Homo sapiens: one gene and its partners. The protein of the gene in region 1 purifies or fractionates together with the protein of each later gene. This does not show direct contact. Each region holds a gene or a part of one and is shown in the gene's direction. Other genes may lie near its edges.

The links.
Region 2: the proteins of ERN1 (region 1) and SEC24B purify together in Homo sapiens (co-immunoprecipitation; one study listed by IntAct). This does not show direct contact.
Region 3: the proteins of ERN1 (region 1) and RNF13 purify together in Homo sapiens (affinity purification with western blotting; one study listed by BioGRID). This does not show direct contact.
Region 4: the proteins of ERN1 (region 1) and SEC24A purify together in Homo sapiens (co-immunoprecipitation; one study listed by IntAct). This does not show direct contact.

Annotation. Positions count from the first base shown.
Region 1 is NC_000017.11:64,038,642-64,040,893, reverse strand, and holds the end of ERN1 (serine/threonine-protein kinase/endoribonuclease IRE1 precursor), read left to right. Parts: 3' UTR 1-1,752; downstream 1,753-2,252. UniProt on the Homo sapiens protein: Serine/threonine-protein kinase and endoribonuclease that acts as a key sensor for the endoplasmic reticulum unfolded protein response (UPR).
Region 2 is NC_000004.12:109,520,815-109,524,314, forward strand, and holds part of SEC24B (protein transport protein Sec24B), read left to right. Parts: intron 1-302; coding exon 303-358; intron 359-605; coding exon 606-812; intron 813-3,500. UniProt on the Homo sapiens protein: Component of the coat protein complex II (COPII) which promotes the formation of transport vesicles from the endoplasmic reticulum (ER).
Region 3 is NC_000003.12:149,816,215-149,819,714, forward strand, and holds part of RNF13 (E3 ubiquitin-protein ligase RNF13 isoform 1 precursor), read left to right. Parts: intron 1-1,072; exon of another isoform or gene 1,073-3,500. UniProt on the Homo sapiens protein: E3 ubiquitin-protein ligase that regulates cell proliferation. Involved in apoptosis regulation. Mediates ER stress-induced activation of JNK signaling pathway and apoptosis by promoting ERN1 activation and splicing of XBP1 mRNA.
Region 4 is NC_000005.10:134,658,785-134,662,284, forward strand, and holds part of SEC24A (protein transport protein Sec24A), read left to right. Parts: intron 1-2,334; coding exon 2,335-2,802; intron 2,803-2,945; exon of another isoform or gene 2,946-3,005; intron 3,006-3,500. UniProt on the Homo sapiens protein: Component of the coat protein complex II (COPII) which promotes the formation of transport vesicles from the endoplasmic reticulum (ER).

The DNA of each region.
Region 1 (2,252 bases):
GATTACAGGCTTGAGCCACCGCACCCGGCCTAATCTCAGTTTTTGAAGTGCTCCACAAGTCATTAGGCACCAAAACATTTTCACCTGGGGAACACTGGCATTTCCCTGATTAGCTGTGAAGCAATCTAGTGGCTAAGTGTGAAATCCTGGGTGCGCAGGTGTTCTCACTCCCGCCGTGTTCTCAGTGCAGTGGTGGTCAGAGGCCCTTCCAAGGAGACATCACTCTGATCAGTTACAGATAGATGTTCTGGAAGATCTGCAGGTGAGTAGATCCAGCAGAGTTTCTTCCCACCAACTCTAGAAGAAAGGGCCTTATCAGAGTTGACCCTGAGCCTTTGGTAAGGTTTTGTGTGCATGCGATTCAGTTATCTTTGGCAATTCTTTTCTTGCTGCAGTGAGAGATTAATTGGTTGCTGATCAAACCGTTCATGCAGATGGGGGGACCTTTGGATTGTACGGCTTTCTCCTCTTGGCTGCTTTCTTTTCAGGAAGTTGGACTTTGGCCAGGTTTGGCTTTCCCAGAGCCGTTCCTTTCTCTGTCCTTTCCTTGGGTCCTCATGGTGTGCCCATTGGATCCTTGGCCTTGTGATCCTCTGGGAACTGGGGGCCAGTTCCACTTTTGCAGCCTTCTGTGCTGGAAGAGAAGCCCAGCGCCCTGGAAGGAGCCTCTTTAAGTCCCCCATGTCGCTTTCTCTCTCTGCTCTTTTAGTGTCTGAGATTGCCTTTCTTTGAATTTCCCAGTGTTTCTTTTCCTTGTCCCTTCCCTCACCAACCTGGAGTTATTTTGGTTGACTATGTCCTGGCTTTGGCTTCTCCTGGCAGGAAGTCATCAGGCATCCTCTCCAGGTGAGCCGAAATTCCACCCTCCCAGGTTGGACATCATCTTTTAAACCCAATGGTCTACTCCCCTCCTTCTTTATGAAACAGTGATTTCCCGTGAGTAACTCTGGTTCTGATTTTTTGTACCGGCGCTTAAATTCTTTCTGTAGACGTTGGAAAGCCACAAAGAACGTGACTGCAGTGAGCCTCCCACTGGAGCAGCCTTAACCAACACTTTGGCCAAAGCCCCCCCACCTCCCCTGTGTACTGTGTGTGTGTTTGGTGGATACAGTATTCCTTTTCAGTGTCCCTAAAGCTGTGATGGGGAGTCCCCACTTACCTAGAAAGCATTACCAGTCACCTACTCTGCATTCTCAGATGTAAACCTTGTGTAGTGTTCTTTTTGCAATGACCTATTTATTTAACCTATTTATATTTATTTAATTTTTACTCTGAAATGTATCCAGTTACAATTGTACTTGCTTAAAGCACATCAGATTTGTTTTGGACAACACCCTTGACCATTTTAAAACTGGAAAAGTGATACTGTATCCTTCCATGGGATGGATGCTTTACAGTAGTCTTATTATTAAAGGGTGATTAATTTGGTCGGGGTAAAATGTTAATTTTTAGGTGATTTTTAAGAATTCTGTGCCATTATGTCTTCTGTGTGGATGGTTAATTGTTTAATTAGTACGTGTTAATTGTGTGATACAGTCTTCTTTGTGGAACCCAAAATCCTCTTTTTAGCTTTATATTTTATAAACTGCCAGATTGTACAACTTTTATGTGCATTTTTAAAGCTTGAAGACATGAGGGTCATTATCTAAGTTAAACAGCCTATTTTTGTGCCTCCTGTACAGTTTTATAATTCTGCTGATGGCGGCATCTTATGTCGAGCCAACCACAATAAAGGTAGTTTTAGATTTTGGAGTCAGTCTCATTTTCTTAAAGATTCAAATACCATTCTCAGATAGGCTGTGCTCACTGTCCTTCTGGGTGGCCGGGGCTGGATTATGAGGCCTTTGCAGCTGGCTCGGCTGGTGGGGGATGGGTGTCCTCATGTCCACAGCAGGGTCCGGGGACTGGAACACCCTCCATGGTGGCTGTGTGTCAGAAAAGCTTCTTTGAAACCTTGCAGGAAGTTCCCAAAAGTACTGATTTGGGCTGAATTCCAGGAAGGTGGCCAGCTGGGACAGTCATGCCACGTGGTGAGAATTGGGCTTCAAAGCAGAGTTTGGGGCATGTGTACAGTAGGTAGGATACCAGACCAGGAAACCCAGGAGGGGAGAAATGCCATTGAGACCAACAAGGGCTGGGAGTGCCCCCAAAGAGTGGGACAGCGGCGTGTGGAATGAGCTCAGCTGACGTCTGCTTGGACTTTGCAATCCTCCCAACACACCTGCTCCTTCCCCTGCACCCTCTCTATGGAG
Region 2 (3,500 bases), on another chromosome or scaffold:
AAACCCCGTCTCTGCTAAAAATGCAAAATTAGCTAGGCGTTGTGGCGCATGCCTGTAATCCCAGCTACTCAGGAGGCTGAGGCAGGAGAATCGCTTGAACCCGGGAGGTGGAGGTTGCAGTGAGCCGAGATCATGCCATTGCACTCCAGCCTGGGCAACAAGAGCAAAACTCCATCTCAAAAAAATAAATAAAATAAAGCAAAATTATAGTACACATTACATGTATGACCTGATAAAAACTAAGATTTTCTAATGTATTCTTTTGTTCGATTTGTTGATTAAAATATGTGTTTTCCCTATAGATGTTTTTCTACCTACACCGGATAGTTTACTTGTGAATCTATATGAAAGTAAAGAGGTAAGATTGATTTATTTTCTTAAAGCATAAAAATATTTATATTGTGACTGGTAACTAAAATATTTAACATTTGTTTACTTGATATATTAGTATTACAAATAATAGACAATATAAATGGCATATCTATTGACTCCTCAGTTTCCAGTCCCCAGAAATACAGTGACACATGATACACTATGGAATGTTTTAAAATAAGATTATTCCTTTGCCTTCTCAGTAATTCAATTTTTGATCTTTGTTTTCTCAGCTTATAAAAGACTTACTGAATGCATTACCAAACATGTTCACCAATACAAGAGAAACACACAGTGCCCTTGGTCCTGCACTTCAGGCTGCCTTTAAATTAATGTCTCCAACAGGTGGCCGTGTGTCTGTATTTCAGACACAGTTACCTTCCTTGGGTGCAGGACTTCTGCAATCCAGAGAAGATCCTAATCAGAGATCAAGTACAAAGGTATTTTATGTTTAGTTTTTTGTCATATTCAAGATTGTGTAATTATTTGTTTATTCTATTTCATTAATAATAAAATACTGGCAAGAGAGTTGGGTTTTTTTGTTTGTTTTTTGTTTCTTTTTTGAGACGTGGTCTCACACTGTTGCCCAGGCTGGAGCGCAGTGGCGCGATCTTGTCTCACTGCAACCTCTGCTTCCCAGGTTCAAGCGATTCTCCTGCTTCAGCCTCCTGAGTAGCTGGGATTACAGGCGTGCACCACCACACCCGGCTAATTTTTGTATTTTTAGTAGAGACGGGGGTTTCACCATGTTGGTCAGGCTGGTCTCGAACTCCTGGCCTGGTGATCCGCCTGCCTCAGCCTCCCAAAGTGCTGGGATTACAGGCATGAGCTACTGCGCCCGGCTGCCTGAGAGTTTTTTGTTTTGTTTTTGTTTTTTTTTTTTGAGACGGAGTCTTGCTCTGTCGCCCAGGCTGGAGTGCAGTGGCGCGCTCTCAGCTCACTGCAAGCTCTGCCTTCGGGTTCACGCCATTCTCCTGCCTCAGCCTCCCTAGTAGCTGGGACTACAGGCGCCTGCCACCACACCTGGCTAATTTTTTTGTGTTTTTAGTAGAGACAGGGTTTCACAGTGTTAACCAGGATGGTCTCAATCTGCTGACCTCGTGATCCGCCCACTTCAGCCTCCCAAAGTGCTGGGATTACAGGCGTGAGCCACCGTGCCCGGCGAGAGTTTTTAACTCAAATTATCTTTTTGGTTTTGTGTCACAGTATGTTCTTTTTATACTTTGTAAGTCATAGAAATTTAGAAATCATTTAGTCTAACTTTTTCATTTTATAGATGAGGAAGTAGAGTGTCTAGTTAAAGGTTAAATAACTATTTAATGGTAAAAGTGCAACTTGATTTTCTGACTCCAGTGTTCTTTTCTATTACGTAAGTGGTAAAACTTACTAAATGTAACTATTGTAATTCAACATGCTCATACTAATAAACTTTTTAATTATGAAGATAACACAGATCATTGTATAACACTTGGAAAGTGGAGAAAAGCATAAATCACCAATAATCTAACGATACTAGCATTTAGTTATACAAACATACAAATAAGCATAATTGGACATCATACGTGTGTGTGTGTATATATATGTGTGTGTGTTTGACCTTTTTCATTGGAGAATATATTGTGCGCATTCTCTGAAGTCACAGAGAAAGTAAATGTGAAAGTAATCAATTGATTGCTTTTCAGCTATTAAATAGTTGTCTTCAGTATTTTTTTCTTTTGTTTTTTAAAAGTAGAGACAACATCTTGCTGTGTTGCCCAGGCTGGCCTCAAACTGCCGAGATCAAGCAATACCCCTACCTCAGCCCTGCAAAGTGCTGGGATTGCAGATGTGAGCCAGACCTGTATTTGCACTATTTTTTTTTTAAAAAAGGGCTGGGTGTGGTAGCACCTGCCTGTTACCTTAGCTACTCAAGAGGCTGAGGCTAGAGGATCATTTGAGCTTAGGAGTTCTAAACCAGCTTGGGCAATGTAACGAGACCCTATCTTAAAAAATAACAATAATGGCCGGGTGCAGTGGCTCACACCTATAATCCCGGCACTTTGGGAGGCAAAGGTGGGTGGATCACTTGAGTTCAGGAGTTTGAGACCAGTCTGGCCAACATTGCAAAACCCCATCTCTCCTAAAAATACAAAAATTAGCTGGGTGCGGTGATGCAAGCCTGTAATCCCAGCTACTCAGATGGCTGAGGCAGGAGAATCACTTGAACCAGGGAGGCAGAGTTTGCAGCGAGCTGTGATCACTGCCACTGCACTCCAGCCTGGGCAACAGAGCGAGACCCGGTCTCAAAAAAAAAGAAAAACAATAATAATAATAACAATGAAAGGAATATACGAAGCTGAACATTACTTGGGTTTTATGTGAAGATTTGGTCAGGCATTTTTAAGCCCTATTTCAAATAATAAATGAACAAAAATATTCATTTTTCTTTTGTACAAGTTCTGTCTGGCCTTAACATATTTGAGAAAATATCATTATAAGTAGTTATGAGTATGAATTAAACAGTTTTAATAGTGTCATAAATCTTTAGCCACATATCCAGATTTGCCTTAGGATAAATTCCTAGAAGTGAAATTATTGGGTTAAAGGGCATAATCTTTAAGTTATTAAATAAAGAATGTTTTGTTTATTTGGGTTTTTTAATCAACTTCTCTTCTTAAGGACTCTCATCCTGTAACCACCATTAAGTAGCATTGCTTTTTTTATTCTTCACCAATATGCTAGAGAAAAAAAGGCACCATATTTCACCCTTTATAGAAATTGTATTTTAAAATTGCATTTGAGAAGGAAGCTAATTTTAAAATAAGTATGTATTTTAAACTCATCAACAAGTGTAGCTGGCATTTAGTTCGTTGACCCATTACAATCCATTATAAATTACTGTGGTGTTTTGAACACAGGAAGCTGATATATATTTACTGAATCCTTTGATAGAGCTTTGTTTTGATTTGTTTTGTTTTCTCATTTAACTTTCAAAAATATTCTCTATCTGTCTGCCTAGGACTCTAAAGTTTCAGTATCTGTTCTGGTTTACATATTCCTTCATATCCTTAATTCCTTATATTAGAGTAAGCTCTAATATAATCATCATACAGTGTAATTAAGAGGATTGAAACTTTTTTTTAGGAAAT
Region 3 (3,500 bases), on another chromosome or scaffold:
AGTGGGAAGTGGGGGAATTAAGGCATCACAGATACATAACTTCTGAGTTCACACAAGTAGCTGGTGGAGTAGCTGGAATTTGATCACAGGTATTCTGACTACAGAACGTCTGTCTCTTTTGTGTCTTATTTCATTAAAAAATATGGAATGCTGTGGGGCTATTGTGGATTCGTACTTGCTGGTGACCTTGGGGAAGCTCCTCCTCAATTTCCTTAACTCCTTCCTTACTTGTTTTTGTGGGGATTCAGATAATTTGTGAAGCAATCAGATGGCGTATATGTTTAGTAAATTATATGCCTTAGCCTTTTTTTTTTTTTCATTGAGGATGAGGTCATTTGAAAGATTGTTAGCAGTTGAAGGAGGGTGGAAAAAAAAAAGTTCCACATAAGGACACTGCCCAAGCAAAGGTATAGAGATAGGAAAAGCAGAATACATTTGGTAAGGATATATGTTTAAGGACCAGACTGGTAAAGATAGATGGATACAGATTATGGAGATTCTTAAATGTCAGACTAAAGATTTTATATATGATTTTTAGTTAAGAAGAAACTCTCTTTATGGATAATAATTTGTGAACAGGTCCAATGGAAGAGTGGAAGCCTAGAAGTAGGAATACCATGCAATTTAATTATAGTAGTTGAGGCAAGAAGTGATGATCGTAGTGAAGGTATAGATTTGAAAGATGTTGACATTATAATGACATTGACACTGGGAACTGACCAGAGTATAGGCCTAGGACAAATTTTTGGGAGGATAGTGATGTTATTAACAGAAATAAGGATATTATCATGAAGAACAGGTTTTGGTGGAAGGAGATTTAGGAGGAGAGAGGATGATAGGGAGTTTACTTTTGGAGCTGAGGAGTTGTTCAGACGTTTGGAAATGTAGAATGAAAACTGGAAGTTCTGTGTATTCTATGAAAAGGGAAGAGAACAAATGCTTACATTGTAAGGAAATGACCTAAAAGTAACCACTCCTCTGTGGGTCAGAGTTTCACAAGAGGGATGTGACTCCTTAAATTACTCACAAGTACAGATTTCTCAATGAAGATGCACCCATTATTTTTCCCTTTAGTGTATTTTGATTCGTGTCCTGGGAGATCAGGAGGTAAGGTAGTGGGGAGGAAAAACTTTTAGACCTAGCAAGGCTCCCATTTATTCAAAAAATAGCTAGTAAATTGGAGGCTAGGGATTCTCACCGTAAGAATTTTGAGAGTCTGATTTTTGTGTGGTACCAGGCATTTATAAACATATGTTGAATGCTGAATTGTTGAACATTTGAACATCTCCAGATTTGTTATTTTTATTATCCTGTCTTTGTTACCTTGAATTGGTTAATAGCAAAACCTTTAGAATCAGAGACTCTGTGTGCTTGTTATGGGGGGCAACAATGAAAGTCAGGGTGCAGCTAATGAGATTGTATTTTACTTATAGCCAGGATTGTGGAAGAAGACACTCAAAGGATAAGAGGCTTACCATTTTTCCCATTCTGTAAAACCATGTTGATGACAATACCAATTCTGAGAGTTGTTTTGAAATACTGAGTTAATATATGAAAAGGGTCTGGTACATGATAGATAGTAATTGAGATGTTTTTGTTACCAGTATTATTATCTTCACAAGTGGGGGGCAAACACAGAGATCCCAGAACCTATTATAAGAAAAAAAGGAAAACATCTGGAGACCCTTTGTACTTGAAAAAGGGCTCAGGACTAAGTCATAGAAGGACTGTAGGTTTCCTTTCTTGGAAGGTTTTCTAGGGTTTGGTACAATTGGGTAGAGCATGATGTTGAATTAAGTAGTAAAATATATCCATCTCAACTATTTTCAGTTTCCTGTCAAGTTCTCAGTAAACCAACAGAAAAATGTTGTTGAGCATGAGAAGAAGGTTTACTTTTCTTGTCATACCATTTTTGGAAACATTACTTGGATCCTACTACTTAGGGGTTTTTCTGTAGCATTTATTCACTCAAATATTTGTTGAGTACCTTCTTTGTCAGGCACTGTTCTAAAGAGAAAAATCCTTGCCTGCATGGAGCTTATCTGCTAATGGGAGAAATAAGGTGCATTTTCATAATAGACGGTAATTAGATTTTTCTCGTACTATGTATTTGTACCTATTTAAGCAGATGGTAATAATGAATACTATACCAGATTGTAACTAATTTTGCAGAGCATTTGAAGGAAGGGACCATGTCTTTCTTATTCGCATTTGTCTCTCCCTTTTCCCCTTCCTCCCAGTGGAATGGCTTAGATGTGTTTAATGCTCAACAAACGTAGGTACTCATCAAATGTTTATTACAGGGAGAAGGTGTTAAGGCAGAGGCTACATCTTAAAGATTAAAGGAGTCAGTTAAATGTGGCATGTATTAAGGACCCATATACCCCCTAGATTGAGGGTGAGAAGAAGAGAATCCGGCTGGGCACTGTGGCTCATGTCTGTAATCCCAGCACTTTGGGAGGCTGAGGTGGGCAGATCACTTGAGACCAGAGTTCGAGGCCAGCCTGGGCAACATGGTAAAACCCCATTTGTACTAAAATACAGAAATTAGCCAGATGTGGTGGCGTGCTCATGTAATCCCAGTTACTTGAGAGGCTGAGGCAGGAGAATTGCTTGTACCTGGGAGGCGGAGGTTGCAGTGAGCCAAGACCGCGGCACTGTACTCCAGCCTGGGTGACAGAGCGTGACTCTGTCTCAAAAAAATAAAATAAGATAAAAATAAAAAGAGAATCCCCTGGCTTATCTATGAGGTTGGAATAGGAATAAAGTTATATTGTAGCTGAAAGCATCAACATTATGGGAGTCTGGGTGTCACCCAACATTCCCACTAATTAGCTGGGTGATTTTGCATAAATATCTTAACCTCTCAGTTCATTTCCTCACCTGTAAATGAAGTAGTTGGAATTGTCCAGTTAAAATCTGTTTTTACGACTTCTTGTAAAATATCTCTTGCACTAATGTTTCACTTCACTAACGTAGATAATATAGAGCCAAGCATGAGCTTCCATTGAATAAGCATCAAGCTAAATATATACTCTTAGTTAATAAACTAATGTTTAAGAAAAGATGTCTACAAAATTTGTTGATGCTATTTACCGGTAAGATTACATTGTAATTTTTTAAAATAGAGCAAAATATTACCTAATATATAGTTTCCCCCATTGCCATTATGTAAAGGAAAAATAAGCCATAGTATTTTAGACCTTAATAATGGATCATAATACTCACTTTCATACTTTAATTTATACAACAGTCACTTGCCTCTGATATTGTGCTAGATGCTAGGTATTGTATACAGAATTAGAAAATGTATAGCTCCTAACTTTAAGGAGCTTAAGGAATAATGGGAGTGACAGACCATTTAGTTGTGTTGCATTTTGGTGGCATAGAGAAGCATATAATGAGAGTCTGGGAGAAGAGAAAGTGCTCATGGTTACAGAGAAAAAGACTGGAGGAATGGCAAGGGACTAAGCTAAATATACAGAGACGAGCCAGTTTAT
Region 4 (3,500 bases), on another chromosome or scaffold:
AATGGGCTTTTAGAATAGATATGATAGTTTTGTGATGATATCTGTTTAGGTGTGGTGTGGAAATTTCTCATCTCAGGTCATGAGTCAGATTGACATCTTTCCTGGTTGCCCCTGGGAAGTAGATTATGACAATTGAGTTCTTTTGGAAGGCTCTGTTTTAGGCAGATAAGAGATTTTAGGAACTCAAATGCCTTCTGCTTAAAATAATTTTTATGCCATAGTAGCGTATTCTGGACCCCTTCACAATCACTGACCCATTTATTTTTATTTATTTATTTATTTATTTATTTATTTATTTATTTATTGAGATGGAATCTTGCTCTGTCACCCAGGCTGGAGTGCAGTGGCGCGATGTTGGCTCACTGCAAGCTCTGCCTCCTGGGTTCACGCCATTCTCCTGCCTCAGCCTCCCGAGTAGCTGGGACTACAGGCACCCGCCACCACGCTCCACTAATTTTTTTGTATTTTTAGTAGAGATGGGGTTTCACCATGTTAGCCAGGATGGTCTTGATCTCCTGACCTCGTGATCCGCCCGCCTTGGCCTCCCAAAGTGCTGGGATTATAGGCGTGAGCCACCGCGCCTGGCCTCACAGACCCATTATTTTGATGGGCTACTTAGTAATGACTTCAGAATTTAAAAAAATTATCCATTTAGTGAAGGTGTCATTATATATTTATTACTACACTTTTTGTGAACTACTTGTAATTGATCCATATATGATTTTCACATAGTGGGGAGGGATGTCAGAAAAAAAAATTTTCATGTAATAGTTACTCACAATAGGTCTATGATGGTGACTACCACAAAACAAGTTCTTTTGTATCTGTCTTCCTGCCAGTTGGCCTTATGACCTCATATTCTTTTTTTTTTTTTTTTTTTTGAGACAGGATACAGGGTCTCACTTTGTCACAGAGGCTGGAGTGCAGTGGCGTGAACGCAGCTCCCTGCAGCCTTAACCTCCTGTGCTCAGTGATCCTCCTGCCTCAGCCCCAAGTAGCTGGGACTTACAGGCAGGCGCCACCACACCCAACTAATTCTTATATTTTTTATAGAGACGAGGTCTTACTATTATGTCCAGGCTGGTCTCGAACTCCTGAGCTCAAGCTATCTGCCCGCCTTGGCCTCCCAAAGTGTTGGGATTATATGTGTGAGGCACCATGCCCAGCATGTTTTCATCTTTATTGGCCTGTCAAATTTTTGCTTATTTTGTACATTTTGATGGTATTTGGCTTTCACTTGGCTGTACCTGGCTTGAAGGCACCTCTTTAGCGTATTAGCTTGTGATAAGATTGTAAATACAACCTGTTTGCTCACGCCTGTAATCCTAGCGCTTATAGAGGCTGAGGCAGGAGGATTACTTGAGCTCAGGAATTTGAGACCAGCCTGGGCAACATAGTGAGTCTCTGTCTCTACAAAAAAAAAAAAAAAAAATTAGGCCGGCGTGGTGGTGCATGCCTGTAGTCCCAGCTTCTCAGGAGGCTTAGATGGGAGGATCGCTTGAGCCCAGGAGGTCAGAGCTACAGTGAGCCATGATTGTGCCACTGTACTCCAGCTTGGATGACAGAGTAAAGTGCTGTCTCAATCAATCAATCAATCCATAAGTAAGTAAATAAAATTGTAATACAAATATGAAACTAGGCCAGGACATCTTGTGGCAACATTGGGCTGTGAGATGGCCTATTTTTATCCAAGTGACCCAACATATGCTTATATATTATTTTTTTACAAATGTTTTCATTTATTGAGACATCTCTGTATTCCCTCTGTTACTTGCTACTGTTTAGTCCATCTTTTTTTTTTTTTTTTGTCACCCAGGCTGGAGTGCAATGGTGTGACCTTGGCTCACTGCAGCCTTGACCTCCTGGGTTCAAGTAATCCTCCTGCCTCAGCCCCCCAAGTAGCTAAGACTACAGGCGCATACCATCAAGGCTGGCTACTTTTTGTTTTTTTTTATAGGCATGGGGTTTCACCATGTTGCCCAGGCTGGTCTTGAACTCCTGGGCTCAAGCTATCCACCTGCCTTGGCCTCCCAAAGTGCTGGGATTACAGATGTGAGCCACTGCGCTGGCCTTCATTGTGGTTTTGATTTACATTTCTGTTATGACTAATTATGTTTGTATTTCTCTAATGACTGATGATGTTGAATGTTTTGGCATGTGCTTATTAGCTATCTTCTTTGGAAGTATGTTTGAATGTCTATTTAAGTCCTTTGCTTATTTTTTAATTGAGTTATGTGTTTTTATTGCTGACTGTAAGAATATATGTTTTACTTTATTTCTTAAAGTATTGCTATATTCGTTGGTAAGACTAATTTTTCCTCCTTTTATTGGAAGGTCCTGTCCAAAATGCATTGCTGTCTTCACAAGAGTCAGTGAGCCAAGGATACAATTTCCAGCTTCCAGGATCCTACCCTCATCCAATACCAGCAAAGACTTTGAATCCAGTCTCTGGACAGTCTAACTATGGTGGTTCTCAGGGATCTGGGCAGACTCTTAATAGACCACCTGTGGCCTCTAATCCAGTGACACCTTCGCTTCATAGTGGTCCTGCTCCCCGAATGCCATTACCTGCTTCTCAGAACCCAGCTACTACACCAATGCCTTCTAGTAGCTTTCTTCCTGAAGCCAACCTGCCACCACCTTTGAATTGGCAATATAACTATCCATCCACAGCCTCACAAACAAACCATTGTCCTCGTGCATCATCCCAACCAACTGTATCTGGAAATACAAGTTTAACCACAAATCATCAATATGTTTCTTCTGGATATCCTTCACTTCAAAATAGCTTCATAAAGTCAGGTAGTATTCTTATAGAAGTGCTTAAAATGTAGAAATGTGAAACTTTTGCTTATTTAGATGTTTGAAATAATACTTGAAACCTGAAAACCATATGGAAAATGTGACTTTTAAAATTATTAGTAGTTTTTTGTTGTTTTTTGTTTTTCGGCTTTCCAGCAAAAACCAGAAAGCCTGCTAGACAAATTAAGTAAGCTATAACACTCATTAGTAGTTTTTTTTTTCATTCTTTTTTCTCTTTTTTTTTTTTTTTTTTGAGATGGGGTCTTGCTCTGTCACCCAGGCTGGAAAGCAGTGGCACAATCTCAGCTCACTGCAACCTCTGCCTCCCTGGTTCAAGCAATTTTCCTGCCTCAGCCTCCAGAGTAGCTGGGATTATGGGATTACAGGCACGTGCCACTGCACCCAGCTAACTTTTTGTATTTTTAGTAGAGATGGGGTTTCACCATATTGGCCAGGCTGGTCTTGAACTCCCGACCTCAGGTAATCCGCCCACCTCAGCCTCCCAAAGTGCGAGGATTACAGGCGTGAGCCACCACACCTGGCCACATTTATTTATTTTATTTATTTATTATTTATTTATTTTTTTGAGACGGAGTCTCTCTCTGTCGCCCAGGCTGGAGTGCAGTGGCGTGATCTTGGCTCACTGCAAGCTCTGCCTCCCGGGTTCACGCCATTCTCCTGCCTCAGCCTCCCGAGTA